7 linked regions of the Homo sapiens genome follow. The protein of the gene in region 6 interacts with the protein of the main gene of each other region in a pairwise test. Each region holds a gene or a part of one and is shown on either strand. Other genes may lie near its edges.

Evidence for each region.
Region 1: the proteins of TMEM120B (region 6) and CPLX4 interact in binary tests that used the Homo sapiens proteins (3 or more experiments, as listed by UniProt).
Region 2: the proteins of TMEM120B (region 6) and RNF19B interact in binary tests that used the Homo sapiens proteins (3 or more experiments, as listed by UniProt).
Region 3: the proteins of TMEM120B (region 6) and STOM interact in binary tests that used the Homo sapiens proteins (3 or more experiments, as listed by UniProt).
Region 4: the proteins of TMEM120B (region 6) and SCN3B interact in binary tests that used the Homo sapiens proteins (3 or more experiments, as listed by UniProt).
Region 5: the proteins of TMEM120B (region 6) and NCAPH2 interact in binary tests that used the Homo sapiens proteins (3 or more experiments, as listed by UniProt).
Region 7: the proteins of TMEM120B (region 6) and BNIP3L interact in binary tests that used the Homo sapiens proteins (3 or more experiments, as listed by UniProt).

The regions. Positions count from the first base shown.
Region 1 is NC_000018.10:59,315,577-59,320,422, reverse strand, and holds the start of CPLX4 (complexin-4), read left to right. Parts: upstream 1-1,773; 5' UTR 1,774-1,960; coding exon 1,961-2,127; intron 2,128-4,846.
Region 2 is NC_000001.11:32,957,625-32,962,005, reverse strand, and holds part of RNF19B (E3 ubiquitin-protein ligase RNF19B), read left to right. Parts: intron 1-4,381.
Region 3 is NC_000009.12:121,345,923-121,350,303, forward strand, and holds part of STOM (stomatin), read right to left. Parts: intron 3,402-4,381; coding exon 3,198-3,401; intron 2,228-3,197; coding exon 2,093-2,227; intron 1-2,092. UniProt on the Homo sapiens protein: Regulates ion channel activity and transmembrane ion transport. Regulates ASIC2 and ASIC3 channel activity.
Region 4 is NC_000011.10:123,647,784-123,652,164, reverse strand, and holds part of SCN3B (sodium channel regulatory subunit beta-3 precursor), read left to right. Parts: intron 1-4,381. UniProt on the Homo sapiens protein: Regulatory subunit of multiple voltage-gated sodium (Nav) channels directly mediating the depolarization of excitable membranes.
Region 5 is NC_000022.11:50,510,616-50,514,996, reverse strand, and holds part of NCAPH2 (condensin-2 complex subunit H2), read right to left. Parts: intron 1-4,381. UniProt on the Homo sapiens protein: Regulatory subunit of the condensin-2 complex, a complex that seems to provide chromosomes with an additional level of organization and rigidity and in establishing mitotic chromosome architecture.
Region 6 is NC_000012.12:121,743,325-121,747,705, forward strand, and holds part of TMEM120B (transmembrane protein 120B), read left to right. Parts: intron 1-304; coding exon 305-423; intron 424-4,381. UniProt on the Homo sapiens protein: Necessary for efficient adipogenesis. Does not show ion channel activity.
Region 7 is NC_000008.11:26,406,487-26,410,654, forward strand, and holds part of BNIP3L (BCL2/adenovirus E1B 19 kDa protein-interacting protein 3-like), read left to right. Parts: intron 1-1,513; coding exon 1,514-1,617; intron 1,618-1,740; coding exon 1,741-1,890; intron 1,891-3,877; coding exon 3,878-3,926; 3' UTR 3,927-4,168.

The sequences.
Region 1 (4,846 bases), on a different chromosome or scaffold from region 6:
AGGTTGCAGAGAGCTGAGATCCTGCCACTGCACTACAGCCTGGGCAACACAGTGAGGCTGTCTCCAAAAAAAAAGATCCTACACACCAGCTAGTAGTTCCTGGATGTCCAAGGGCAAAGGTCATTGTAATAAATCAAGGAGTAAAAAGTTTTTTAAGTCGTGACCTCATTCTCAATGGAATTACCTGTTGAGGAAATAATAAGATATTTGATTTCATAAAGCACTCTCAGGAGACCTTCCACGGCGACCCTGCTGAAGCTACCACCGAAGAGTCCCCATAATGCATGACACCCCCTCTTCCTAACCCCCTCCACACAAACATACATTCAGAAAAGGACGGGACAGGGAGAAACTCCTTTACACATGGGTGCTGGAGTTTAGAATTGACACCCTCACCATTAATATTTCCTAATTCCTCATACAATGGAATTTTTAGAATAGATTTTATAATAAATCTAAATAATTACTTATAATAAAATGTAGACCGAACAGACAGAAACACAAGGCTGTGGCTTTTATTTTATGGTTTGAAAAGTTCTATGAGACAACATTAATTAGTAACATTCCTCAGTGGACTGCAATGTAGTTTATTATAAATGGTAATTTAGAGATAATGGTATGAACGTGTTAAGTTCCAAGCAACCCATCTAAAAGAGAAAGTGGAACTCAATATTGATGGGCATTCTCCTCGAAGCCCTGAGTACAGCTTATATTTCACCCTAAATTATCTTTTTTAGCCTTTCATATTGAGACCATTTAAGCAGCATTTTAAAATAGATTACTAAAAGGGAAAGCAGACGATAAAATATATAAAGCAAGCATTTTAGGCAAGAATCCAGATTATGTAATTCTATATGATCAGAGAGATAATCACCTGGTTTCTGAGAGGACTCATGCCTTCAGATAAAATAACAATGGATTACATCTCTTCCTTCCCACCCCACCCTCTTTGGCAGGCTTTAATTAGAAAGATACTAGTGTAGATTGAAGTCTTAGCCATACTCAACTCTTCCCTTGACCTGAAGAAAACCACAGCCATAGAGAATCTGGTGGGATACAAAACATTGTCAGTTTCATCCAAGTACACCAGTGAGCTTAAATAGAGCACCCAGGAGGTGCACTCTTTATGCAAGAGAAAAAAGGTGACCCCTTACATATTGATGATTTGACTCACATAATGGTCTTACCTTCTGGATCAGAGCCTTGAAGTGTCAAGCACATCATTTCCATATAGACAAGTAATATTTCCATGCAGGAGAAGGCTAAGATAATCTTCCAGATGTAAACCAAGGACCTGCTGTCTGGGTCTTTGCATTTGTCAGTTGTGTATTTATGTGCGGGACACAGTAACTATTGAAGCAAACCGAATTCAAGCAAACTAAAAAGCAAATCCTTGCATAGTACTTAAAGTCCAATGAGATAAAATGATGGATCGAAAGGATTATTTTTGCTTAATGAAGCATTCTGGGTTTTGAGTCTCATTGGACTCAGTTTTTCAACAGGATGTTTTGCTCAAGGGCTGGAATTTGGAAATTCCACAACAGCTATATAATCAGTCAGCTCTGATTAATTTAATTGAAACAGGACTCTTGATGAAGCCCTGCTGTGCTTATAATTAAAAATTTAGAAAGGGGTAGATGATGTGGGGATTTCTTTTTCCTGTGAAATTAGCTGAGTGTATTAATTCAGAAGGTAGGCAGTTGCCTCTGATTGTATGCTTCGGTAATCTGAACCATCTGCCTCTATATACTAAGGAGTTCACCACTTTAATCCAGCTTACGGCCGACAAACCACTCTTCTCTATCAGTATGCCCTTGAATAGATGAGGTTGTGCAAAGTCCTTTGCTCTTAAATGTATTGCTGTCATTGAGAATATTTGGAGGTTTTCTCTTGGGTTTGTTTGGATTTTTTTTTTCAGCTTTTGTCTGAATTTTGGTTTTATTTTTCTGGGGCAGAGAAAATGGCTTTCCTTATGAAAAGTATGATAAGTAACCAGGTAAAGAATTTAGGATTTGGTGGTGGGTCTGAAGAAAATAAAGAAGAAGGAGGTGCATCTGATCCTGCAGCAGCTCAAGGGATGACTAGAGAGGAGTATGAGGAGTATCAAAAGCAAATGATTGAGGAGAAGTGAGTACATGCTATTTCATTTCCCTTAAAAAGCAAAGGAAATTCATTCTGGCCATACCTTCTTCAGTTCTCCAGTTTATTTCTCTTTGCTTTTTAAGATGCCTTTCCTTTTGCCGTTTACCTCTAACCCAAGGAAAGGTTGTTCTTCTAAAGTAAACGGTTCCCTAACATCAGCAGCTACTATGTTCTATGTTCTACATGTATGAATGGAAATGAACAATAATAAATGAATCTATATGTTGTTCTTAAAGCAGCTTAACACTTTCTGGTCTAGGCATGTTTTGATTGACCTCAATTTAATTATTTAGATGAAAAGTGGTAGGTTTAACTATCTTTACATTCTTTCTAAACTTCACCCTCTTAGCACGTAGAAAGTCTTCAAATTGTAAGAATTCAGACCTTATACCTAGAAAAGGGCCTAAAATAACATAGAGGGCAGCTTCTTTGATCTTGCATGTGAGAAAAAAAAAAAAAACCCAGGAAGCATAACATGACAATTATGTCATAAGACTTGGCTTATCAAAGACTATGAATGGATTTGTGGACTGTTTAATATGGAAATTCTAAACATACAGAAAAGTAGAATAGTAGGACAAATACCCACATATACCTATGACATAAAATCAACAGCTTACAGTTTGCTACATTTGCTTAAAGATTAAAAAGATAGATGGTAGATAATAGCTTTTAAAGTAAATTACAGATGTCATGTACTTCACCCCCAAATACTTCAGCCACCTTCCTCCAAAAAATAAAGGCATTTTCTTGGCTATATAAAATATAACAAAAATAAAATATAAAATATAAGCAACATTTAATTGGGTATTATAGAATGTGAATATCACCAACAACTTTTCACCACTTGAAGACTGATTCTGAAATAAATGTAATCTCTGTGTAATTTTTAAATGTTTAAGGTAGAATTAAGATTCTTTTAATAATCAGTTAAGAAATGAAACATCAATCTAGAGGTTAAATGTTTATCATATGTTTCAAAAGAAAAGTATTTCTTTTTTGCCACCAGGACTCTTTTGCTAATGATCAATTACATAATAGTTGCCTAAATCCTATCGCTAAGATGATTATAGGTGAAAAGGTTAATGACCTGGAGGAAACAAAGAAAGTACAAAGACTACGTTTAGTGGAAACCTTGTCTATTGTATTTTTCTGAAAGAAATCATGGCTTATAGACTACCTAGAATACATTATGCTTGGTTCTGCAGTAACTTAAAGTTGGTTTTTAAAAAACAGTCAATGCAACTAGCAAAAATGATGGTGCTAAGACTTGGGCAAAAGAAGCAGCATTCCTTGAATATTGGCTGATTTTACCTATGGCATGCAAAAGAACAAAAAGCTTAAAAGCAAAATAAGTACTGTGTAATGAAGGATAGAAGACAAAAATCAGCATCAAACATTCTCAGATCAAGTAGGCTAATGAAAACAGAAATGTAGACTACAGTTGTGAGCATGCAAAATATCACCTAATATGTTCAAGCAGCAGATCCGATTGCAGATAAGGCATCTATTTGATTAACTAATGTCCTAGTTTTCCTTAATTTTATATCTGGACAGATCAAAGCTCAAAATGGCCAAATCATACAGTCAATCAGCAGACTGAGTTGTCAGCTACTCAGCTTTTTGCATATGTGTGTGAGAATATTATATATTTATGTAGTCACTCAATGTAAGAAATAGTGTCAGGACAATGGAGCATTTGGCTTCCCTATGATAAAGAGGGATGACTTTCAGTCCATTGTTTGAGTTTTCAAGAATTTCACCACCTAGAATGCAATATGTAGTAGGCATTAAAAATAATTCATCACAAGATAAACGCAGAGAGAGCTACAAACAGTTTAGTATATATAATAATTAAAATCAATGTTAGCAAATGAAAGCCTCCTAAACCCATCCTCATCATTGTAGGAAGTGGGGAGACTATATGAATTATAAATAAAAAACTATTTAGCAATGCACTCTATTTAATAATGCACATTCATTTTTATTTTCTTTCTGTGTTCAATGTGTGTGTGTGTGTGTGCGCACGCACCACTGGTAACATTAGTACTGAAAGAGGTCTAAACATAAATAGACTATCTGGAAAGGAAATAAAACAATAGTCTGTTTCTCCCGCCATTTTCTCAATTATATTAAAATGCTTCTTTGCCATAGTTATGCTTCAACAGTTTCTACAATATCATTTGTAACTTGACTCTGACCTTTGTTTTATTCAGTAATTGTTTGGACCCCTAGTATGAGCATAGCATTGTGAGGAATGTACTGAAATGGAAGAGATGGGTTTTCTTCTGCAGGAATTTACACTTTACTTGGTGGGGGGAGACTAGCTAGCTGCATGTGACTATAAACAGAGCAACCAGCTTTTCTGCGTGATTTGTAGACTGGCTCTGGAGGACTGGAATGTAACTCTGCGTGGCATTAGTATCAACAAATCGATCAATGGGGTTTATAGTTATTTGATTTTCAACAAAAGCGCCAAAATAATCAGACCAGGAACGGAAAGTCTTTTCAACAAATGGTGCTAAACAACTGAAAAACATTGAACTTTGACCCCTACTTAACACTATACACAAAAATTAATTTGTCATGCATCATACACGTAAACATAAAAGCCAAAATTATAAAGCTTTTAGAAAAAAAAGTAGGAGAATATCTTTGCAACTTGAAAGTAGATGAAGATTTCTGTATCATGACCCAGATTGGC
Region 2 (4,381 bases), on a different chromosome or scaffold from region 6:
GCGAGATTCTGTCTCAAGAAAAAAAAAAAACAAAACACTGCATAGTTAATTTTGGAATAGTACATTAACTCCTTTCTGAGATGTTTCCTTGAGTTCTAAGAAATGTGGCAGATCATCTTTCTGGAAAAGGTCCCTGTTTGTTTTTTTATTTTTCTAAAGTCAGTTTCTGTCTTTGCTCACATCAATAAAAATGCACAGAAAATAATTTTCAAGCTTGGTGACAACTCTCAACTATTTGGAAGTTATTAAAAAATTAGGCCATTTCTTATTTTAGCCAAGTATTATGTTAGTATCCTCCAGATTTTATTTTTTTAATTAGTTAGAAGAATGATAATCATATATATAGTTATATATATAAACAATGTATTTTTTTATATGTGTCATCTACGGACTTAAGGTGGAGTTTGGGGAAAGAAGAAAGCTGGCCTCTCAATACCTGTGTGCCAGGTATATATAATTTAATTCGATACAACCTTGTGAGATAGGTTTAGGTTTGATATAGTTTTATAAATGAGGAAACTAAAGTTTAAGGAAATTGAATGACTTGTTCAGGGTCATATAACTAGTAAGTGGTGGAACCAGGCTTAGAACAGGGGTCTTAATTCCAACCAATGCCAATATTCCTTCCATTCAGCCCCTGTTTTAAAAAGCATTTGCTTGTCAACATAGCCGCATTATTGAGGATGCTGCTGCTTGGGTGCATTTCATTAAGTGTAGCCTGAGGACAACATGGAGAAAGCCAAAGATACTAGAGTCTAGTTTCCTTTCTGATTCCTGTTGTTAACAGCCTCCTACCTACGTTATTTTTCTTATCTGAAATAGGTCTAATTCTTTCCTGACTTGAGAGGTTTAATTAATGTTTACACGGTGTTTTGAGATCTTCAGTTGAAAGTGGTTATAGGGAGTAACTTTAAAATTCTGTTAGTTGCCAAATAGATGCCTGAGTTCTCCCTTGGGATGTGCCTAGTGGCTTTGCATCTCTTTTTTTTTGAGACAGCGTCTCGCTCTGTCACCCAAGCTGGAGTGCAGCAGTGGTGCAATCACGGCTCACTGCAGCCTCAATCTCCTGGGCTCAGGCGATCCTCCTGCCTCAGCATCTCAAGTAGCTGGGAACACGGGTGCATGCCACCAAGCCCAGCTAATTATTATTATTAATATTATTATTATTATTTGTAGAGATAGGGTCTCCCTGTGTTGCCCAGGCTGGTCTCGAACTCCTGGGCTCAAGCTGTTTTCCCGCCTTGGCCTCCCAAAGTGCTGGGATTATTGCTGCCTCTTTTTAATGCCAGGAAAAAAAATAGCTTCTGTGTTCTTACTGGATGTCATGGTTCCCTTGTTTTGTTTTGAACAGTGTTGTTTTGTTTTGTTTTAGAGACAGAGTCTCACTCTGTGCCCAGGCTGGAGTGCAGTGGCATGATCATGGCTTACTACAACCTTGAACTCCTTGACTAAAGCAGTACTCCCACCTCAGCCTCCTGAGTAACTGGGATTATAGGCACGAACCACTGCACACTGCTCCTTTGTTTTATTTTTTTAAACAAATCGTTCTATTCTTCTGGGGCTGGTAGAGGTCATTGATAAACACTAGAAGAGAAGTCCAAGTCCCAGTTACCTCCTATTCCCATACCTGACCATCTTTACTGCCCACAGATAAAGTTCTTGCCAGCCAAATTGATCAGGTCTCCCCTCTGCCTTGTTTGTATGTGCATTTGGTAGGGTGAGGGGGGCATGTGAGCAATCTTACAGGTTCTGATCATTAGTTTTACTATAATTACTCATAATAACAAGAACACCATACATTCAGAGATTCATGATTTGTTTACAGAATATTTGTAGGATAGAGCAAAGAGTTTTGGATTTTTCTTCTCTTACACTCAAATATGGTTTTATTTTATTCATAAATAAGGGAACCAATTTCAGTGGGAAAACATTCACATTATAATTTTTTTTTTTTTGAGACGGAGTCTCGCTCTGTCACCCAGGCTGGAGTGCAGTGGCACCATCTCTGCTCAGTGCAAGCTCTGCCTGCCGGGTTCACGCCATTCTCCTGCCTCAGCCTCCTGAGTAGCTGGGACCACAGGCGCCCACCACCACGCCTGGTTAATTTTTTTTTTTTTTTTTTTTGTATTTTTAGTAGAGACGGGGTTTCACCGTGTTAGCTAGGATGGTCTCGATCTCCTGACCTCGTGATCTGCCCACCTCGGCCTCCCAAAGTGCTGGGATTACAGGCGTGAGCCACTGTGCCCGGCCTCACATTATTATTTAATATACTAAGAACAATATGGCCTAGTATAATCTTAAAACAAGCTGTCAAATGAGATAAAATTAGTTCAAAATACAAATAACTGATTTTTTATAGTTCTTTATAGTCTTCAGACTATAATCTCATTCAGACATAATTTCATTTTAGTCTCATCCAGGTGGATATTGGCGTGCATTTTATAAAGGAGAAACCAGTTCAGAGAAGTTTAAACATGGGGCCTAGTGTTTCATTGCTAATAATTGGTACAATTGATCTTTTACGCTTTTGAGTCTCTGCCCAAGTATGTCTTTTCAGAAACCCCGAAGTCAGGTAACTGTAATGTTTTCCTCTCAAGTATCCTGTTGCTAATCTTAAAACCCTTTCAGAATCTCTAGGAGACTGACGGGTGAGCAAAGTAGGCAACAGAAAATTTCCTGGTGTACAGGGGCAGATCTTCTGTACAGATGAATAAGAAGGGATAAGGCTGTCTTGACCTAAATTCTTTGTGCAGGTCCACCACTCCAGCCTTTCATTGCTGCCTCTGTCCTCTGCAGAATCCTTCCTCCCACCTGATCCCAGGAAACAGTATCAGCTATTGGCCTTCCCAGACAACTAGACTGGACCATCCCATAAACAGGAAGCTTTTTTCATCCCTAGCACATTTATGAGGGAAGATCAAGCAAGCTCTTTGAGCAAGACAAATTTCAGTCAGTGAAGGAGGATTTTTGCTTTCTGAAGCCTCCCTGAACCTCTTCTCTTGATTTGGCTCCATACCTCCTGTTCCACAACTTTTCCCTGCATTCCCCAACTCCACACCACCCCCTCCTCTTGTGCACGTACACCAACCTCCATCCCAATACATCTGTCTCAGATTTGCCAAAGTACTTGTACTAAAGGAGAACATCTGTATCACTCCCCTGCCTAAGACTATTCATTGACTACCTAACCTATAAGATGAGTTCTTATTATGTCTTTGAGAACTTATTTGATCTACCCTTATCATTTAAGCTCCTTTACAGTTTCCAACCATCTTTTTTTTTTTTTTAGATGGAGTCTCGCTCTGTTGCCCAGGCAGGCTGGAGTGCAGTGGTGCAATCTCGGCTCACTGCAAGCTCCACCTCCCGGGTTCATGCTATTCTCCTGCCTCAGCCTCCTGAGTAGCTGGGACTACAGGCACCTGCAACCATGCCTGGCTAATTTTTTGTATTTTTAGCAGAGACGGGGTTTTACCGTGTTAGCCAGGATGGTCTCGATCTCCTGACCTCGTGATCCACCCATCTCAGCCTCCCAAAGTGCTGGGATTACAGGCGTGAGCCACCACGCCCGGCCATCTCCAACCATCTTTTGATTTTATTTTCTATTTTTCACTCACATCACTATTTCCTAAGGTATGTTATAGGCATTACTTGAAAGAAAAATGTTTTGTGAGGAAATAAGCTTGGAAAATACTGAGTTAAACAAAATAAAACAAGTTTATGAGTTTCTTAAATCTTTAAACATGCTAATATGCTAATATGTAGTATAAATCTTCAATATAATGTAATTTCCCCAATTTAGATCACCAGGAAACAGGTTTTTGTTTTTTCTGTAGCATCTTTAAGGCTTAACTCAAACTTTCCCTAAACTCCTTTAATAGTTACCATGCTGGCCTGCCTTTGGTTAGTGTCCTTATTTAACCATAAACCTTATGCTCTGAATAGATTGAGAGCTCATGTCTCTAGACTAGGATATCTATATTCCAACCATTTCTACAACTCTGTGTACAAAGTCTTTCAATTAGGCTCTAGAAGAGTGTGGTACATAGATGAATTTTGATGAAAAAGATAAGAAATATGAGCAGCATAGTTCTCAGAGGAAGAATAGAGATGAAAGAGATAAGCAAGAATAGTATAGACAGGTGATCATTCAATTCAACAGACAACTTTTTTTTGAGATGGAGTCTCGCTTTGTCGCCCAGGCTGGAGTGCAGTTGTGCCATCTCAGCTCACTGCAACCTCTGCCTCTCGGGTTCAAGCGATTCTTCTGCCTCAGCCTCCCAAGTATCTGGGATTACAGGCATGTGCCACAATGTCCAGCTAATGTTTGTATTTTTAGTAGAAACAGGGTTTCACCATGTTGGCCAGGCTGGGCTTGAATTCC
Region 3 (4,381 bases), on a different chromosome or scaffold from region 6:
TTCCTTTGAATAGTGGGATGGCAAACAAGTTTCATTTTTTTTTAAGTTTTTATTATTATTAATTTTTTATTTAATTTAATTTTTTTGAGAAGAAGTCTTGCTCTGTCGCCTGGGCTGAAGTGCAGTGGCGCAATCTCAGCTCACTGCAACCTCCACCTCCAGGGTTCAAGCAATTCTCCTTCTCAGCCTCCCCAGTAGCTGGGATTACAGGCGCCTACCACCACACCAGGCTACTCTTTGTATTTTTAGTAAGGACGGGGTTTCACCATGGTGGCCAGGCTGGTCTTGAACTCCTCACCTCAGGTGATCCACCCACCTCAGCCTCCCAAAGTGCTGGGATTACAGACGTGAGCCACTGTGCTTGGCCTCAAGTTTTGTTTTTTAGAGCTAACTCTAAGCAGTTGAGGGTTGTTACCCAGAGTGCTATAGAAGGGTTCTGAGGCCAAGTCTAAGCTCAGAGGAAAACAGTGCTGTGGTTAATTACTAGCATGGGAATAGCAGGATGGAGTGCTAGCATCTGGGCTAAGTGTTTGCCACCTATGGAAGATAATCTCTGAGGATCCTTTGGGCTCTGACATTCTACGTAGTATATGTATGGTACATTCTACTATTCAATCTGGTTTGGAAATGAGGCTTTTGCCTAATAACATATTCTAGTTAAAAGCAATTCCTAATTTTCAAAATAAGGAGATGATAGGGCACATTTAATAACATCGTAAACATAATTTAATCTTCTAAACGTAACAGTTTTGAAAGAAAGCACTAGAGGGTTCTGTAGTACTACCAGGTTATCATCACAAAGCAACAATCATCATACCAGGAAAACCTAAACATTTTGGTTAATGCAAAATTCTGAAGTCGCATGTCAAATGAGCTACTATCCTATTTGATGCTGGCTAAGAAATTATAGTGACCAGTTTGTGGCTTAAAGGGCATCCTAAGAAAAGAACAGCGTTCTGTGGTCAGCCAGTGATGACCAGCTACTACTATTTTCTAACAACAAATTGGTTTGCTCCTTGTGTCTTGGGAGATTTGTCAAGTCCACAGCAACTCCTCCTATGAAAACTGCTCTTCTTCTTCAGCCCATTCACAGGCATAGGGCTGTGGAACCATATTATTATGCTATCTTTGCACTTTGACCAAAGTTGGACCAAAAAGACTGTCTCTTCTGTGAATGTGGAATTAGGGCTGGTCTGTGTTCTTTAGTGTTCACCTGGCAGACATCTAAACCTGGGAGCTAGACATTCTCCACCACAAGCTATCTACAGTGAGATGTGGCACAGGAAAGGGAATGACTAGTTCCCTGAACTGCCTTCTGGTTCCAATTTTGGTGAGACTTGCCCCTACTTCCTACCTTTGGGTTTGGTGAGATATCCCTGAAATTTTACACATTATCATCTTTAAAGATACTCTTTTCTAGGTTAGGTTAACAAATATTTCCTCAGTGCCTCCCAGAGGGGCCATGCCACCCATGCAGGGTTAAGACATAGGCAGATGATGATGAAAAGAAGGAAGAAAAAAGGCAGATGTCAAAGTAAGAGAATATAAACAAGAGGAAAAGAGAGAATGAGGAATAGGAAACAGTAAAAGGGAAAAAGAGCCTGAGAAAAGAAACAGAACAAAAAAGAAGCCAAAAATAAGTAAGAGATGGGTGGTATGGATGGAATGATGACCCACTTGCTCCGAAGTTGGAACTGTTAATTTGACCTTAATATGGAATCGGGAGAATAAGTATGGTACACACAGTCATAAAAGAATGAGGTAACTCTACATGTACTGATACGTCCATAGATATTAATATTAAATGAAAAAAGCAGAGCGCAGAACAACATGTGCAGTATAACCCTACTTTTGTAAAACAAACAAGCCAGTAATCCAAAAACCTGGTCAAATAAAATCCAAATACACTCAACTGTTAGGAGTGGTGACCTCTGGGGGAATATGATTTGAAGTTACGGGGAGGGTTTTCACTTCTAACTTTACCACTTCAAGATTATTTCAAGTTTTTACAGCAAGCATGTTTTACGTTTTTTTATAATTATTAATAAAAGAGAAAACTCAGTAAGAAAAACAAGTTTAAAAAAAAAGTTACCTTGGCGCGGGCCTCGCGGGACGCTTCTGCTTCTGCAGCCATAGCTCTCTGGAGCTGCACAGGTAGTTTCACATCCTTAATTTCCACACGCTCCACCTTTATTCCCCAGGCATCAGTGGCATCATCCAGAGTAGACTGTTAGGAAGAGAGAAGGCAAGCTAAATCTCCTCAGCCCAGCCCAGATGCTGACAGAGGCTGTATTCATTGGGATTTGGAGGAGATAAGGTGCTGGGGAGAGTTGTGGAGAGACAGTTACCCCACGGTGGAACGAATGGTGACGCAGGGGCTGGCTCACTGATCCTGATTCTGTTGCTAACAAGCTAATGCAGGGGTTAGCAGCTTCTTCTAAAAGGGCCATATAGTGATTGTTTATTTGTAGTCTCTGTCTCAACTATTTAACCCAGCTGTTGTAGTCAAAAGCAGCCATGGATAATATATAAATAAATGGCTGTGGCTATACTCCAGTCAAACTTTACTTACAAAAACTACAGCCTGTAGGCTACAGTTTGCCAACTCCTGAGCTAATGTGACTCTGTGTAAGTCATATTACTCCTTTGTGCTTCAACTTCCTCCCTTTAGAATGTCAGGAATGAAACCACACATCTATTTCATAGGTTGTTGTGCATATCAAATACAATCATAGATTTTACCCACGATGAAGTCTATACAAATAATAAGAATCCAGAGTTATAGCACTTTATCTTTTTTGAATAAGCTATGCTTAACTGAATATCTGTTACTCAAGAAAGACTGGAAAGCACAACAGTTATAATTCATGGGACTCACACACAGAATAAAGCTTTAGGAATACCTACACTATCTTGCAGAATAGCCTCTGTTCTAAACAAAAAGGTTATTACTGATTCTGGAAAAAAATACACACTGAAGAAAATTTTAAAAAAATGTACGCATGAGTGTTATGAACTCATGAACTGCTAATGTGAAAAATGTCCCCTCCTGCCAAATTTGAAAAATTTTACTATGAAGAAAAAAAAACGGTCACAGACCCCCACAACTTGAATTAATAAAAGGTTCTCAAACAACCATTGACTCTTTGCTTCATTTTTCAGCTTCTGGGGGGTAACAGCATTGACGTACTCCCCACCTGCATGTTGTGTGCAATTTCTTCTCTGTCAGAGAGGATCTGAGAAAGATTCTTGGTGCCCAGAACATTCCTCAGAGTAGTTTGTGCCAAAAGACGGGTTGCTGAGTCAGCGTTGGTGATATTTGCCACAGCCAGGGTTGCATTCTGAACGCGGTAATAGACCACACCATCCACGCTAATTGTCACTGAATCCTTTGTGAGGATCTACAAGATGAAGGAAGCAATTTTACATCTGTCAACGACTTTTTTTTAACATAACTGTAAGGAATGTTATTCTACAGAATATCTTATAACACTAGCTGATTTTCTTTAGTAAGGCATCAGAAAGTTAATTATATCTTTTAAAATTTAATAAAATAAATTATTCAAGTCCATTAATTCATTCAATCATACAAATAATATTGAGATATCACTCAACAGCAGGCACTGTACTAGGTACCAGGGATTAAGGTAGGAAAAAAACTTGGTTCCTCCTTTGAAGGAGGTTAGGGAATCAAAGGAAACTCTTAGGGGCAGCTGTGGGTGGCAGGGGTGATACCTGAATTGAATCTTGAAGAAAGGAATACAATTTTTCTGAGGGTGTTGGGTGGAGTGGAAGAATATTCAAGAGAGAGGCACTAGAGAGTCAAGGTTTGATAAACTACAAGTTCCACAATATTACTGGAACAAAAAGTGCATGGGGAATGTTTTTAAAGGGCAAGGTCAGCATCAAAACATATTTTACAGCATGCTACATAAAAATGCTAAACATGACATATTTTTGTTTTAAGCTAAGAAGTTATCTGAGTGAGAGGCTCCAGGAAAATAGTTACATCCATCACTTAAAACTCACTGGGACTCAGTTTTCTCATTTGTAAAGTAGAGATTAATTATAGTACCTACTTTGCATTCTTGCTAGAATTAATGCGTTAAATACATTCAAGTGCTCAGAAAAGTTCCTGGCACGTAAGAGCTGTCTTATTATTTCATCTTGGATAATGGTGGTAACTTTACTGAATAAAACACTGACTTGATTAACTGTAATAAGTTAATTTAGATAATAATAAACAAGCCAGCTGGGCATGATGGCATACACCTGTAGTTTCAGCCACTCAGGAGGCTGAGGCAGGAAGATTGCTCCAGCCTGGGAATTCCAGCCTCTCTCACTAACAACATCAGGCTGGCACCTTTCTACTGATCATTTA
Region 4 (4,381 bases), on a different chromosome or scaffold from region 6:
TGAAGTTGTGGATAAGGGTTGGAGTGAGACTCTGCAGAGACTTTCTTCCTGAACTCTAATCTAAGATTTTGAGATCCCTGCCTGAATTCCAGTGGAGGGAGAGAACATGCTATCATCCAAGAATCTTTTAACTAGAACTTGTGCAACCTGCATTGGAGTCTCAGCTTTGCCACTAGCTTACTATATAACAACCTTAAAGTGCTATCTGGTTCCTTCTGTGTAATGTTTGGAAGTTGGCACGGGTGATATCTAACATCCTTTTCAGCTCCACAGATGAATGGTAGAGAAATCTTTGAAGAATATTGCTAGAATTGACAGAGTGCCCATCCCCTCCCCGACCCCAAAAAACTTTGGAAGAAGTGTACACAGTATGCCCATCTTTGCCCATTCTCAGTTTCTTTGCAAACTGAGTGTTGTCTCACCAAACTGAAAAGCTGTGGAAGGGAAAGAGAAGTGGTTCAGGACACTTGGTTGTTAACTGTAAGAAAAACAGCTTCCCTTCGCCAGGCGCAGTGGCTCACGCCTGTAATCCCAACAATTTGGGAGGCCGAGGCGGGTGGATCACCTGAGGTCAGGAGTTCAAGACCAGCCTGGCCAACACGGCGAAACCCCATCTCTGCTAAAAATACAAAAATTAGTCGGGCATAGTGGTGCGTGCCTATAATCCCAGCTACTAGGGGGACTGAGGCAGGAGGATTGCTTGAACCTGGGAGGTGGAGGTTGCAGTGAGCCAAGATTGTGCCACTGCACTCCAGCGTGGGCAACAGGGCGAGACTCCATCAAAAAAAAAAGAAAGAAAAACAGCCGCCCTTCACAGATACAATTTCATTTGATTTGCATGCAATTCCAATATTGAACAATAATGCTGGGTTAGATGTGTTCCCCCTTCCAAAGTTGATTTTTTAATATGATGTACAATATGAAGGGAAAGAGTCTTTCCATTTACTTTCTGCATGCATGAAAAAAAGTTTCCTTATTTCCTTTGTTAAAGCATGTAATAATTTTTATTTTTTAAAGAGATTTAAAAAATAATACAATACAATAAATAATTAATACAATAAATAATTAATACAATAAAATAATAATAATTGTATTAAAAAAATTAATACAGACGATGTCTCGCCATATTGCCCAGGCTGGTCTCTAACTCCTGGGCTCAAGTAATCCTCCTGCTTCAGCCTCCCATAATGCTAGGATTATAGGCATGAGTCACCATGCCCAGCCTTTAAAATAAATAAATAAATAAAACCCTATATTTGCCTGTGCATCACAGTTTACAATGTAATTTTCAATACATTGCTTGTTTTGGTCCTCATGTCTATCCCTGAGGTAGTCAGGGGAAAGAGTGCTATTTCCAGTTTAGAGATGAGAAAATGAGCTCGGGGAAGGGAAAGGACTTGCTAGAGAACCCTTGTTTTCTGATTTCAGTCTTCCAGTGCTCCTTCTAGCACCTCTCATGGACACATGTGCTACTATGCACAATCGCCAGGAGGGCACCTGTCCTCCCATTTCTCTTCTGAGCTACCGTCCCATCTCTCCCCAACACCATCACCTGTCCTAGGGCCTCACTCACTAGCACCTAGTACCTTCTCTGCCCTTCTTCTCCAGGCCTGCCCTTCTAGTTGCCCTGTGTGTTTTCCTCTCTTCCCCTGGTGATCTTTCGTGCATCCTATTCAAGGCCCTAAGTGACCAGCTAAATTGACAGAACAAGTCACGTCAGGGTGTCAGCATCTAAAAATAACCTCATTTATTACCCCTTTTTGGAAATTGTTTATATTCTAATCAAATTTTTCATTATCTCAGTGCAAAGGAAAGCATTCTAGAGCAATCTCAGGAGGAAAAATTGGGCATTGTCCAAAGAAGAGAAAGATTTGAGGGTATCAGAGAAGCTGGTTCATAATTCTTTATTATCTGCCTCATGATAGATGGATGCTACTACTCCCTAGTGAAATATGATCATTATTAATAATCATGTTTTTCCTTCTCATAAATTTCTTCATTATTATTATGGGAATTGAAGAGAAGAACAAAGGTCAAATGATTTGGTCAACATTATTCCAAGAGTTTGTTACTTTTAGTCAGCAATGTAGTTTGAGCTCCTGCCATATTTACAGCCTTCTTTGAATACCTAGAGGGTTTCATAGAAAGAAGGGCAGTGGTGGACTGGGTGCTGTGGCTCATGTCTGTAATCCCGGCACTTTGGGAGGTCAAGGTGGGTAGATCACCTGAGGTCAGAAGTTTGAGACTAGCCTGGCCAACATAGTGAAACCCTGTCTTTACTAAAAATACAAAAATTAGCTGGGCGTGATGGCAGGTGCCTGTAATCCCAGCTACTCAGGGGGCTGAGGCAGGAGAATCGCTTGAACCCAGGAGGCGGAGGTTGCAGTAAGCTGAGATCATGCCATTGTACTCCAGCCTGGGTGACAAGAGTGAAACTCCATCTAAAAAAAAAAGAAAGAGAGAGAGACAGAGACAGAGAGAGAGAGAGGAAAAAAAGAAAGAAAGAAAGAGAAAGAAAGAAAAAAAAGAAAGAAAGAAAAAAGAAAGAAAAGAAAAAGAAAGGAGAAAGAAAGAAAGACAGTGGTGTGCTGAAGACTCAAAGGATGGAGAAACAGACATTACCTCTTGAAGCAAGGAGCAGCAAGTCATACTGCAAAAGGCAAGCAAACAGAGGTGGGGGAACTTTGTGGCCATTTTTCAATGTACTCTTCAGGATCATACGAGCAGAGTTCTCATGCCCTGAAACTAGATTTTGACCAGAAGGGAAGGAGTGGGACTTGCTCTATGATGATACCTTGGATTATTGTTGCCTTAGGGGCAACCAAGAAAAGAGAGGGGCTACCCCACTTTCTGCCATACCCCATTTGCCATCCTGACTGCTTTCCCTCCATTAACTATAAATGAACTAACTATGCTTCTATCTCTGCCATCCCATCTACTTGTTCACTAGAGCACATCACCTCTCACCTTTTCAAAGATGTTAATCCAGCAAATCATTTTCTTGCATTTCATTTCTTTCAAACTCCACCAGCTCTACTGTCATCTTCACCAAAACAAAATCGTCTTCCAATCCGATCCCTGTACCAGACCTCTTAACTGTTTTGATTCCACCCTTGTCCCTTTCACTTCATCAGTTTATTCCCAACACAGCATCAGATCATATGATCTTGTACAAATTAGATCCCATCATTCTTCCTCTCAGAACCTTCTGCTGCTCCATGCAAATGCCATAAACTCTAAGCAAATGCCAAGGTTCTAACATGGCCAATAAGACCTGCTGTGATCTGGCCCTCCCCATCCCTCCTACTACTTCATCCCCTTCTATTCTCACGTTGTTTGCTGTAATTTCCACATTGGACTGTTTGCTGTCTGTTGAGCATGACAAACACACTCCTTTGGGCCCCTTGAGCCCTTGAGTTGCAATTTCCTGTGTTTGACATGCCTTCACACAGATATGTGTATAGCTTGTATCCTCATTTCTTTTCTTCAGCGCCTGCTCAATGATACCTTCTCAGAAAGGCCATCCTCCAATGACCCTGTGCACACACTCTCTCCTGTTTTATTTTTTCTCACAGCACTTTTTACTATTTAATGTTGCTGTTTTCCCTCTCCCTCCATTGGAATGTAAGCTCCATAAAACAGGGATTCTTTTCTTTTGTTCTCTGGTGTATTCTTCGTGCTTAGAATAATGCCTGGCACCCAGAAGGCACTCAGTATATTTGGGAAATAAACGAAAGATAGAATAACATGAATAATGACATTTGTACAAAGCACATTCATGTAAATTAATCCATAAAATTCTCATGATAAACCTACTAGACAGATGTAACTTTCAGCATGATGTCGATGAATAAACTGAGTCCAGAGAGATTACATAGTACATCAAACCCAACTCTTCAGTTGCCAGATTCTATCTTCACCCTGCCTCTATAATTGTAACTGTGCATTCCTTGAGACTTCTTAGTCCACTTCTGAGTTTGTCAACATGAAATGAATGAATTTATCTTTGCCAGCTCTCATTAAATATGAATGTGCCTTGAGGTTCCATACTACACGGAGTTCTTGCTGCATACGCTCTACCCCTCTGCCCACTCACAAACTTTTGCGCAAACCACATTTCCTTTTTGTTTAATCAGATCTATAATCAATACTTCAGACTCATCATATGCTGAAGATGTTTCTGATCAGTTCTCCCTAGATGTGAGTCCTCTCTCCATTAACGTGGCTCACCATCTGCAGAAGCAATAGGTCCTCTTGAAGACTGTCAGATAAGACTCACCCAGCTTGCTGGAGAGTTGAAAACCCAATTACATTTATTTTACCTTGATGTTTACAACTTTAAGTTAATTCTAGTGCCACTAGTTTTTAAACTCCATGTTTT
Region 5 (4,381 bases), on a different chromosome or scaffold from region 6:
CGCAGAGGCTCACCAGACAGATGAAGGGAACGTGAAGGCAGCTAGCAGAGACTGGACACGTCTCTTCAGGAAAATGAGCATGATCTAAACATGGCCAAAGCATGGCGCGTGCTGGGGAGAGGCAAGATTTTAGGCACCATGGTAGCACGAAGGAGTGGCAGAGGCTGGGAAGCCATCCCCAAGGGGAGTCACTTCCATTAGCTCTTGAAGGATAAAGGGTGTTTGTCAGATCTGGGAGGAAGGGAGAGGAAACAGCAGCATGGTCGTCTACGGAGTGTAAGGACCTCGGGGGTGTTCAGGACCTGAAGAGCTGGTCCAGAAAGAAGGGAACATGGAGGAGATGGCGGCCTGGAAGCTGAGCTGCAGAAGTGGCCCTTCTCTCCAGTGACCCTCAGCCTGGCTGGCTTGCCCACTCCCAAGACACTACTGGGCTTCACTTGTCTTCTCACCTCCCCAGGTTGGACCTGCCATCTGAGCCCAAACCCACATGTTCAGCTGCCTTCTTCAAACATCGCTTGGATGGCTTCACCAAGATTCATACTGAATGCATCCACACTGAACTCCAAATAGCCCCCAACCCACCTGCCCAGAAACCCAGGGGTTCCTCTCCACAGTCACCCCCATTCTGGCCCCACCACCTCCCCTTTCACCTCTGCACTGACAGGGCTCCTCCTGCCCTTCACTCCCCTCCCGTCCACTCTCCACGCTCTGCTCAGTGCCTCTGTTTAGGATTTTGGGTTTTTCCTAACAGTGGCAGGAAAAACCCAAAATCCTAAACGGAGCCAGAGGGAGGCCTCCATGCTGGCCAGCCTCCCTCTCCAGCTGCCTGCCCTCCTCTGCTCTATGGTCCCAACTTGGAACCTTCTGTTTTGTTTTGTTTTGTTTTGTTTGAGACGGAGTCTCACTCTGTCACCCAAGCTGGAATGCAGGGGCGCAATCTCAGCTCACTGCAACCTCCGCCTCCTGGGTTCAAGTAATTCTCCCTGCCTAAGCTTCCTGAGTAGCTGGGATTATAGGCGCCCGGCTAATTTTTGTAAAAACTCCAATCCTTCCAACACCAGGTTTCCTCCACCTGGAGCTAAACATTCTTTAGCTCACCATAAATAAGTAACTGCTTTCATCTCAAACAAACTAAGCCCCCCAAACTCTCCACAGGACCATACATTTTCTTTCAAATCCCTTATAAGTTTCTGGTGATTTTTTCGGTTGGTTGGTTGGTTTTGGTTTTTGTTTTTGAGACAGTCTCTCGCTCTGTTGTCCAGGCTGGAGTGCAGTGGCACAATCTCGGCTCACTGCAACCCCTGCCTCCCAGGTTCAAGTGATTTTCCTGCCTCAGCCTCCCAAGTAACTGGGACTACAGGCATGCACCACCATACCTGGCTAATTTTTTTTGTACTTTTAGCAGAGACAGGTTTTCACCATGCTGGTCAGACTCATCTCGAACTCCTGACCTCAAATGATCCTCCTGCCTCGGCCTCCCAAAGTGCTAGCATTACAGGCGTAAGCCACCTCGGCCTCCCTAAGTGCTGGGATCACAGGCGTGAGCCACCTCGGCCTCCCTAAGTGCTGGGATCACAGGCGTGAGCCACCTCGGCCCCCCAAAGTGCTGGGATCACAGGCGTGAGCCACCTCGGCTCCCCAAAGTGCTGGGATCACAGGCGTGAGCCACCTTGGCCCCCCAAACTGCTGGGATCACAGGCGTGAGCCACCTTGGCCCCCCAAAGTGCTGGGATCACAGGCGTTAGCCACCTCGCCTGGCCATCAGTTTCTGACTACACAAAGTCACACGCAGGGGTGGAGGCTGGATTCTGATCTGCCAGGAACCACTATCATTCAGAGTACATCTCTAACGCCTCTACTAACAAGGTTTTTGTGAGGACTCTGCATTCATATGTGTAAAGCACATAAAACAGGTGCTTAACACAAGTAAACACCAAATGCATATTTATTACACCCCCATGCGGTTACTCTCTTGGACCCGTCTTCCCATGACAGAGGAAGTCCTACCATAGTGGGGATTATCATTTGCTTTGCTTGGCACTATTTTTTCAAAGTTTAACATGGTTCTTGGCACACAATTCACAACTAACAACAATGAATAAATAAATGGATAAAAGAGAGTAGGATCATGACAGTACTAGAAGAACATTCTGGCCAGTGCAATGGCTCACACCTATAATCCCAGCACTCTGGGAGGCCAAGGCAGGTGGATCACTTGAGCTTGGGAGTTTGAGAACAGCCTGGGCAACACAGTGACACCCCATCTCTACCAAAAATACAAAAAATTAGCCAGGTGCGGTGGCACATGCCTGCAGTCCCAGCTACTTGGGAGATGGGAGGATCACTTGAGCCTGGGAGATCGAGGCTGCAGTGAGCCATGATTGCACCACTGCACTCTAGCCTGGGCAACAGGGCAAGAACCTATCTAAAAAAAAAAAACAAAAAAAAAAAAACAAAGGACAAAAAAAAGAAAAAGAACATCATGGTAGTGTGTGGAAAATGACAGAAGGAAAAAGATAATACTAGAAACCAGGAAATCAGGACTTCAAGCTGCAGAGGTTTGGAAGAGCAGACATAAGAAAGCAGGAAGGGAGCTGACCAAGCCAGGAAGGAGATTTACCAAGTGAACAGGTGTCCTCATGGACCCTGCTTGATGTGAAAACCTGAATCCACAGGAGCTCTGCCCAGCACAGTTCCCCGTATTTTCTCAGCCAACTATGCATGAGAGCAGAGAAGTTTGGTCATCAGATCACATGTGCATTTAACAAACACTTTAACGTCCACACCTATGTGCCAGGCACTCTACTAAGCAGACAAAAGAGGGCATAAGTATGGTCCCTGCCCTGGCAGAATTCACATTCTAGGGTGGAGACAGGCCACAAACAGGTAAATGAGTTGAAGAATGGCTTGTGGCCAGTCGCAGTGGCTCACACCTGCAATCCCAGCACTTTCAAAGGATGAGGTGGGCGGATCACGAGGTCAAGAGTTCAAGACCAGCCTGGCCAACATGGTGAAACCCCATCTCTACTAAAAATACAAAAATTAGCTGGGGCCAGGCACGGTGGCTCACACCTGTAATCCCAGCATTTTGGGAGGCCGAGGCGGGTGGATCACGAGGTCAGGAGACCAAGACCATCCTGGCTAACATGGTGAAACCCTGTCTCTACTGAAAAATACAAAAAAATTAGCCAGGCGTGGTGGCGGGCGCCTGTAATCCCAGCTACTGAGGAGGCTGAAGTAGGAGAATGGCGCGAACCCAGGAGATGGAGCTTGCAGTGAGCCGAGATTGTGCCACTGCACTCCAACTTGGGCCACAGGGCAAGACTCTGTCTCAAGAAAAAAAAAAAAATTAGCCAGGCGTGGTGGCAGGCGCCTGTAATCCCGGCTACTCAAGAGGCTGAGGCAGGATCGGACGCGGTGGCTCAGGCCTGTAATCCCAGCACTTTGGGAGGCCGAGGCGGGTGGATCATGAGGTCAGGAGATCGAGACCATCCTGGCTAACACGGTGAAACCCCGTCTCTACTAAAAAAATACAAAAAATTAGCCGGGCGTGGTGGCGGGTGCCAGTAGTCCCAGCTACTCGGGAGGCTGAGGCAGGAGAATGGTGTGAACCCAGGAGGTGGAGCTTGCAGTGAGCCGAGATTGCACCACTGCACTCCAGCCTGGGCGACAGAGTGAGACTCCGTCTCAAAAAAAAAAAAAAAAAAAAAAGAGGCTGAGGCAGGAGAACTGCTTGAACCCAGAAGGTGGAGGCTGCAGCAAGCTGAGATTGCACCACTGCACTCCAGCCTGGGTGACAGAGTGAGACTCCATCTCAAAAAAAAAACATATAAATAAATAAAATTTTTTTTGGCTGGGCGCGGTGGCTCATGCCTGTAATCCCAGCACTTTGGGACACCGACACGGGCGGATCACCAGGTCAGGAGATCGAGACCATCCTGGCTAACACGGTAAAACCCCGTCTCTACTAAAAATACAAAACATTAGCCGGGTGTGGTGGCAGGTGCCTGTAGTCCCAGCTACTCGGGAAGCTGAGGCAGGAAAATGGCGTGAACCCAGAAGGCAGAGCTTGCAGTGAGCTGAGATCATGCCACTGCACTCCAGCCTGGGCGACAGAGTAAGACTCCATCTCAAAAAAAAAAAAAATTTAAATGGTTTATGATAAACATTCTAAAGTGTGTAAGGTGCTGAGATGGAGAGGACTATTTTAGATAGGGTGGTCAGCTGACATTTACACTAAGACCTTAAGAATGAAAAGGACTCAGTCAGCCAGGCGTGGTGGCTCACGTCTGTAATCCCAGCACTTTGGAAAGAGGCAGAGCTGGCTGGATCACCTGAGGTCAGGAGTTTGAGACCAGCCTGGCCAATGTGGCGAAACCCA
Region 6 (4,381 bases):
CAGGTCACAAGGCCAGGAGTTCGAGACCAGCCTGGCCAATATGGTGAAACCCCATCTCTACTAAAAATACCAAAAAAAAAAAAATTAGCTGGGCGTAGTTGTGGGCACCTGTAGTCCCAGCTACTTGGGAGGCTGAGGCAGGAGAATCGCTTGAACCCAGGAGGCGGAGGTTGCAGTGAGCCAAGATCATGCCACTGCACTCCAGCCTGGGTGACAGAGCGAGACTCTCTCAAAAAAAAAAAGAAAAGAAAATGAGCTGTTCATATTCTCCCACACACCCTCCCCCGGGTCCCCTGTTCTTCAGGAGACGCACAGGATCTACAAGCAGAAGCTGGAGGAGCTGGCTGCGCTGCAGACGCTGTGTAGCAGTTCCATCAGTAAGCAGAAGAAGCACCTCAAGGACTTGAAGCTTACACTCCAGAGGTAGGTGCAGCTGTAGCCCGGGGGCTGCCCTGGTTCTGAGGGACAGAAGTCCAACTCAAAACAGGCTGAAGCAGAGAATGGAAATCTCAGTGGAAAAAGACAGGACTGGGAGTTGCTTCAGGCATCACTGGATCCAGGAGTCAAAGGGTGTTTTGGGGCATGTATTTTTCCCTCTAAATTCTGCCTTCCTCTGGATTGGTGTCACTCTCAGGGTGACTGTCCCCTTCACCAGCAGTGCCAGGCTTATATTCTCCAGCCTTGCTTCCTGCCGGCTGTGCCACCCTGGCTGAAGGAGAGTGTCTCTCTTTTTTTTTTTTTTTTTTTCTTGAAATGGAGTCTTTCACTCTGTTGCCCAGGCTGGAGTGCCATGGCATGATTTCGGCTCACTGCAACCTCTGTCTCCTGGGTTCAAGCGATTCTCCTGCCTCAGCCTCCTGAGTAGCTGTGATTACAGGCATGAGCCACTGTGCCTGGCCGAGAGTTTCTCGTTCCCAGTACTTCAGCCGACATTCTGGGTTCAGTCCTCATTGGCTGGGATTGGTTGAATGCCCATTTGTGAACCAATCACTGAGAAGCTGCTTGGGCAGCGCCATGCCGTGTGCTAAGTCTGTGGCCCTGGGCGGTGGAGGGATGGCCACATGGGTGATGGGAGAAGAAGATAAGTAGTTTCCCGGGTGAAAGTTGGGTGCTGTTATAGGAAGGTGCCCTGCCGGACAAGTAAGCAGGCAGCGTCCTTTTGTGGGTGTGGGGTGCCCTCCCCACTGGGGTTGCTGGTGTAGTGGCCACTAGGCTGCCATCCCTGGTGGAGATGTGCTTGAGCTCATAGCTTAGTTCAGTTCCCAAGGCCTGGATCGTGTTCATTTCCTGACACTCATGGTCTCCAGGTCTGGGAAGTCCCCTCCTGCCTGGTATGTGAAGGGGCCCAGTGGATGCCGTGACCCCATTGTCAGGCAGGGAAACTGAGGCTCCAAGTGACTTGTCCCAGGTCACTTAGCTGGGCCTCCATTTTAGAATCTGGGACTCCTGGTCAACTCTTTCCTTGTGGACAATTTTGGAGGAAGGTCCTGATTATAGCTCTCAGTGTGGCTGGCCATTTTGGAAATGGAGGCCCGCAACTAAGGGGTAGAGAGTGTGGATGGCCCTGTGCAAACACGTCACCAGATGTGGCTTTGGAAAAACACATCTTGGTAATGGCAGGGCTCAGAGTCTAGAGTTTCTTCAGATTCTCAGTGATTGCTTCACAGATGGGCACATGGCGAACCCCAGCACTATTGATGGGTCTTTGTGGGGGCCGTGCAGTGCACTGTGGGATAGTGAGTAGCATCCCTGGCCTCTGCCCACTGATGCCAGTAGCACTCCTGCCCCAGGTGTGTCCACCAAGATCTCTCCAGGCATTGCCAGCTGTCCTCAGTTGAGAAGTGCTGGGTTAGAAGGTTGACCCGTGAGTTAGGGTCTTAGACCAAGGACCCCTGTCATTCTGAGATGTGTCTGCTGACTTGTTTTCTGGTTTTGAGAGTTCCGTGTTACCAAAGAATAACAGACCATGATTGGTCGACTGCTTATGCTTTCAGGTGCCTTTTTGTCTGTCTCTTGGTCATCTGTAGGTTATTCCTTTATTTCTATTTTTTAAAATTATTTTCATTCATTCATTCATTCATTCAGAGATGAAGTCTCGCTCTGTTGCCCAGGCTGGGGTGCAGTGGTGCAATCTCGGCTCACTGCAACCTCTGCCTCCCGGGTTCAAGCAATTCTTCCTGTCTCAGCCTCCCGAGTAGCTGGGATTACAGGTGCCCGCCACCACGCCCAGCTAATTTTTGTACTTTTACTAGAGACAGGGTTTCACCATGTTGGCCAGGCTGGTCTCAAATTCCTGACCTTAAGTGATCATCCTGCCTCGGCCTCCCAAAGTGCTGAGATTACAGGTGTGAGCCACCATGCCTGGCCTTACTTTTTTTGAGATAGTGTCTTGCTCTGTCACCCAGGCTGGAGTGCAGTGGCGCAATCACGGCTCACCACAGCCTTGATCTCCTGGGCTCAAGCGATCCTCCCACCTTAGCCTCATGAATACTAGGACTACATGCATGTACCACCATGCTTGGTTGTTGTTTTTTGTTATTGTTGTTGTTGTTTTTGAGATGGAGTTTTGCTCTGTCACCCAGGCTGGAATGCAGTGGTGCTATCTTGGCTCACTGAACCTCTGCCTCCCGGGTTCAAGTGATTCTCCTGCCTCAGCCTCCCAAGTAGCTGGGATTATAGGGGCCTGCCACCACACCCAGCTGATTTTTATATTTTCAGTAGAGACAGGGTTTTGCCATTTTGGCCAGGCTGGTCTCGAACTCCTGACTTCAGGTGATCTGCCCACTTCAGTTTCCCAAAGTGCTGGGATTACAGGCATGAGCCACCACACCCAGCCCCTGGTTGTTTTCTTAAACCGCCCCCCCACTTTTTTTTTTTTTTGAGACAGAGTTTCGCTCTTGTTGCCCAGGCTGGAGTGCAATGGTGCGATCTTGGCTCACTGCAACCTCTGCCTCCCGGGTTCAAGCGATTCTCCTGCCTCAGCCTCCCGAGTAGCTGGGATTACAGGCATGCACCACCATGCCCAGCTAATTTTGTATTTTTAGTAGAGACGGGGTTTCTCCATATTGGTCATGCTGGTCTTGAACTCCCAACCTCAGGTGATCGGCCCACCTCAGCCTCCCAACGTATTGGGATTACAGGCTTGAGCCACTGCACCCGGCCTTGGTTGTTTTCTTTAATTAATTTTTTATAGAGACGGGGTCTTGCTATGTTAGTCAGGCTGGTCTCAAACTCATGGCCTCAAGTGATCCTCCTGCCCTGGCCTCCCAAAGTGCTGGGATCATAGGCGTATGTGCTGGGACTATAACATCATGCCTGCTAGCTATTTCTTTAGAAAAATGAGAAGAAGGCCGGGCGTGGTGGCTCACGCCGGTAATCCCAACACTTTGGGAGGCCGAGGCAGGCAGATCATGAGGTCAGGAGATCGAGACCATCCTGGCTAACATGGTGAAACCCCATCTCTTCTAAAAATACAAAAAAAAAATTAGCTGGGCGTGGTGGCAGGCACCTGTAATCCCAGCTACTTGGGAGGCTGAGGCAGGAGAATGGCGTGAACCCAGGAGGCGGAGCTTGCAGCGAGCCGAGATGGCGCCACTGCACTCCAGCCTGGGCGACAGAGCAAGACTCTGTCTCAAAAAAAAAAAGAAAAGAAAAGAAAAATGAGAAGAAAAATAGTATTGTCAGTAATTATCCCTTGAGCTCATACTATCAAGTATTATTCTAGATGCTCTATGCTGTACTTACTCATTTAATCCTCACCAGGCTATTGTCTGTGAGGTAGGCTTGAGGTTATCCCGGCTTTTCAGGTATGGAAAATAAGGCAGAGAGGTTTAAGGACTTTCTGAAAGTCACAAGACTACCTGGGAGGCAGCATCACTCCTCCAACCCCGAGAGTTGAGATGGGGAACTGCGGTTGCGAGAGGCACTGGGGTAGAAGGTGGGAGGCTGGGGTAGAAGGCGGGAGGCTGGGGTAGAAGGCGGGAGGCACTGGGGTAGAAGGCGGGAGGCTGGGGTAAAAGGCGGGAGGCTGGGGTAGAAGGCGGGAGGCTGGGGTAGAAGGCGGGAGGCTGGGGTAGAAGGCGGGAGGCTGGGGTAGAAGGCGGGAGGCTGGGGTAGAAGGCGGGAGGCTGGGGTAGAAGGCGGGAGGCTGGGGTAGAAGGCGGGAGGCTGGGGTAGAAGGCGGGAGGCTGGGGTAGAAGGCGGGAGGCTGGGGTAGAAGGCGGGAGGCTGGGGTAGAAGGCGGGAGGCACTGGGGTAGAAGGCGGGAGGCTGGGGTAGAAGGCGGGAGGCTGGGGTAGAAGGCGGGAGGCTGGGGTAGAAGGCGGGAGGCTGGGGTAGAAGGCGGGAGGCTGGGGTAGAAGGCGGGAGGCTGGGGTAGAAG
Region 7 (4,168 bases), on a different chromosome or scaffold from region 6:
AATAATTATTTTTATAGGGTTATTTGTTGCAAGGTGAAAGTTAATGCATGTGGCTGGGTGCAGTGTCTCACACCTGTAATCCCAGCACTTTGGGAGGCTGAGGCAGGGAAGATCCCTTGAGCCCGGGAGTTCAAGACCAGGCTGGGCAACATAGTGAAACACTGTCTCTTTAAAGAAATACAAAAATTAGCTGGGCGTGGTGGCACACACCTGTAGTCCCAGCTACTTGGGAGGTTGAGGTGGGAGAATTAATTGAGCCCAGGAGTTCGAGGCTGCAGTAAGCTGTGATTGCACTCTGGCCTGGGTGACACAGGAGACCCTGTCTCCAGAAAAAAAAAAAAAATGCATGTAACATGCTTGGAATAATATTTGCCCCTTTAAGTGCTCAATAAATACTATTATTTATTTCCTCATCACATCTCTCACTTATTTTTGTTTTACTTCTCATCATTTTATTTTTAGCATATCCTTTTATTTCCTTTTATTTTTTTAATTATGAAATTTTTTTTTTTCTTTTTTTTGTTGAGATGGAATCTCACTCTATCACCCAGGCTGGAGTGTAGTGGCTGGATCTCGGCTCCACCTCCCAGGCTCAAGCAACCTCCACCTCCCAGGCTCAAGCGATTCTTCTGCCTCAGCCTCTCAAGTAGCTGGGATTACAGGTGCCCGCCACCATGCCCGGCTAATTTTTTTTTGTTTTGTTTTGTTTTGTTTTTTGAGGCGGAGTCTCGCTCTTTCCCCCAGGCAGGAGTGTAGTGGCGCGATCTCTGCTCACTGCAAGCTCCGCCTCCTGGGTTCACGCCATTCTCCTGCCTCAGCCTCCCGAGTAGCTGGGACTACAGGTGCCCGCCATCACGCCCAGCTAATTTTTTTGTATTTTTAGTAGACACAGGGTTTCACTGTGTTAGCCAGGATGGTCTCGATCTCCTGACCTTGTGATCCGCTCACCTCGGCCTCCCAAAGTGCTGGGATTACAGGCGTGAGCCACCGCACCCAGCGTGTAAGTTTTGTGTTTTTTTTTAGTAAAGACGGGGTTTTACCATGTTGGCCAGGCTGGTCTCCAGCTTCTGACCTCAAGTGATCCGCCTGCCTCAGCCTCCCAAAGTGCTGGGATTATAGGCATGAGCCACTGCACCCGGCCTAATTACGAAAATTTTAAGTGCATACAAGAGAGAATAATATAATGGACCTCCATGTAAGTATTGCCCAGATTTAACTCTTATCGAGGTTTTTCATACTTCCCTTAGCATTACATCCCAAAGTACAGTCTTATGCAGTTCCTGTGCTGTGCTTAGATATCCCAACAGTGAAGCTCACTCAGGTTGTTCTGAAGATATTACATACTCTGATCTTACATTATTTTTCAGCATTTTTTAGAAAAGCAACATGTTTGTTATCTAAAATTTCTGAGACACAACCTTATGAGTTTGGTATCTTTTCTGTCTAGATTTTTCTTTGTATTAGGAGGAATTGGTCTTCCTTTTTTTCTTAAAGTTTGAATTCTTCTTTACAGTCAGAAGAAGAAGTTGTAGAAGGAGAGAAGGAAGTCGAGGCTTTGAAGAAAAGTGCGGACTGGGTATCAGACTGGTCCAGTAGACCCGAAAACATTCCACCCAAGTGAGTTCTCACATGTTTCTTGTCAGTGGACACAGTTGATCTGCGCACGCTTACAGGCAATGGGCCTGGTAATCCCCACGATATTTTCAGCAAATGACATCTGCCTCTGAATTTCTTTCTCAGGGAGTTCCACTTCAGACACCCTAAACGTTCTGTGTCTTTAAGCATGAGGAAAAGTGGAGCCATGAAGAAAGGGGGTATTTTCTCCGCAGAATTTCTGAAGGTGTTCATTCCATCTCTCTTCCTTTCTCATGTTTTGGCTTTGGGGCTAGGGTAAGTACCGGTCAACTCCTGAAGTTTTTTCCATTCATTTTATCCTCTTATTTTCAGATTGAAGAAATGTATGTGAAAGCAGTTTTTATTGCTTTACTTTCAATGTTTTAGTGCAAATAAGGTGAACTTAAAAAAGTGGGTGCACAATTGTTCTACAAATAAGCATTTTTAATAATAGTAGAGTGTGTTTTCTTATTTGAAAATAAGATGTTTGGCCTGGTGTGGTGGCTCATGCCAGTAATCCCAGCACTTTGGGAGGCCAAGATGGGTGGATGACCTGAGGCCAGGAGTTCAAGACCAGCCTGGCCAACATGGTGAAACCCGGTCTCTACTAAAAATACAAAAATTAGCTGGCCATGGTGGTACATGCCTGTGGTCCCAGCTACTTGGGAGGCTGAGGCAGGAGAATCGCTTGAACATGGGAGGCGGAAATTGCAGTGAGCCGAGATCATGCCACTGCACTCCAGCCTGGGGGATAGAGTGAGACTCCATCTCGGAAAAAAAAAAAAAAAAAAGAAGATGTTCATAATAATCCCCTAAATGATCAAATGTAAGCGGACTCCTCTGTGATTGATTTTTCTTTTTGGGTTTTGTTGTGTAATATTTAATCTTGAGTAATTTATGAACTAAACTAATCTTTAGCATGTACATTTTGTGGTCAGTGCAAATACCTTTTTTTCATATGGGAAAATACATGATTACATTGAATAGTTTTTTTTAATGAAACTGGTAGGTTGATTGGTGCTAATTTTTTCCTTTTTTAACTTTGTAGTATTTTCATTTATTTTGCTAAAATCAACCTCATATTTACGTGTAATTCATTAGTTTCTTAGCCACATCTTTTAAATAAATTGCTTTTTTTCCTTGATTTAAACAATTGAGGAATTACACTTCTGAAAGATTTTAGGAGTTAAACAGTAGCTGTTAATTTTTTTCAAGACGTATGTTGTGCTCTAAGCATGCCCAGTGGGTCATTTTCAGTATAAGATATGCAGAAGATGGGGTCATCCTTTTTCTTCCCTTTAAGGAGCTCAGCATATTGGAGAGAGATTCTTAGTCACGACCTCAGAAACTTGCATACAGCTTTCCACACACCCGTCTTGTCTCTCTTGGGTGCTTGATCTGCTTTTGTGAGGGCAAGGACAGTAATCAACAAACAGCAACCTAGAAGGGGTTTGTGCAGAAGGGGACTGTGTGACTGTTGCGTGGGGGTTGATGTGGGGCAGGTGTAGGAGTTTAATACATTGCTGCCTATACAGCAGTTCATTGCCCTTAAGCGATTGGTGTCTATACCTTGCCGTCTCTCTTTCAGTCATCTTCAGATTGTTTGTCTTGGCTGTAAGTATAACTATTGCTATAGATGAATGTAAAAAGAGTGTTTAAAAAGTTCGTTGCTTTAATTGCACTGGAGGTGAAGCTAGTTACATACTTTCCTTAACTTCCCTTCTGCTTTTGCTGTTGAAGAGGCCAAATACTTTCTTGGCATGAAAAAGTATTATAAGGCCCCTAATCCTTAGGAGTTATTAGTAAGAGCTGTCTTTAAAGCACTGGCAGCTTTTAAGGTTTTTTTTTTCTTTTGTCCTACATAGAGCACCAGAATAATTTCACATATTACTATATTTTTGTGTCTGAAATGTCAGTAGAACCTTCTGTCCACCAAAGAGGAACATCTTGAAGGAGTTGGGCTGCTTTATTTACTCTGTGGAGGGATCTGTTCTCTCTGGCTTTACTTTGTCTAATCACTACCCCTTTGCTGTCGAGCCCCGATATTTAATGAGTAAACAAACTCATATAAAACCAGTTTGGCCGGGCTGGTGACTGGTTTTAAGAAAGTCAGTGATGATTTCACGGTGTTTGGGGAGCGGTACCCACAAACCTTTAGAGCCTTTTACAAAGACTGAAGAGTTTTAAGTAGAGTTCAACCTGTGGACAAGCTGGTATAGAACTGTTGAAACAGGTGAAACATGATGCTTCTGCTTCCTTTCAGCATCTATATTGGAAAGCGACTGAGCACACCCTCTGCCAGCACCTACTGAGGGAAAGGAAAAGCCCCTGGAAATGCGTGTGACCTGTGAAGTGGTGTATTGTCACAGTAGCTTATTTGAACTTGAGACCATTGTAAGCATGACCCAACCTACCACCCTGTTTTTACATATCCAATTCCAGTAACTCTCAAATTCAATATTTTATTCAAACTCTGTTGAGGCATTTTACTAACCTTATACCCTTTTTGGCCTGAAGACATTTTAGAATTTCCTAACAGAGTTTACTGTTGTTT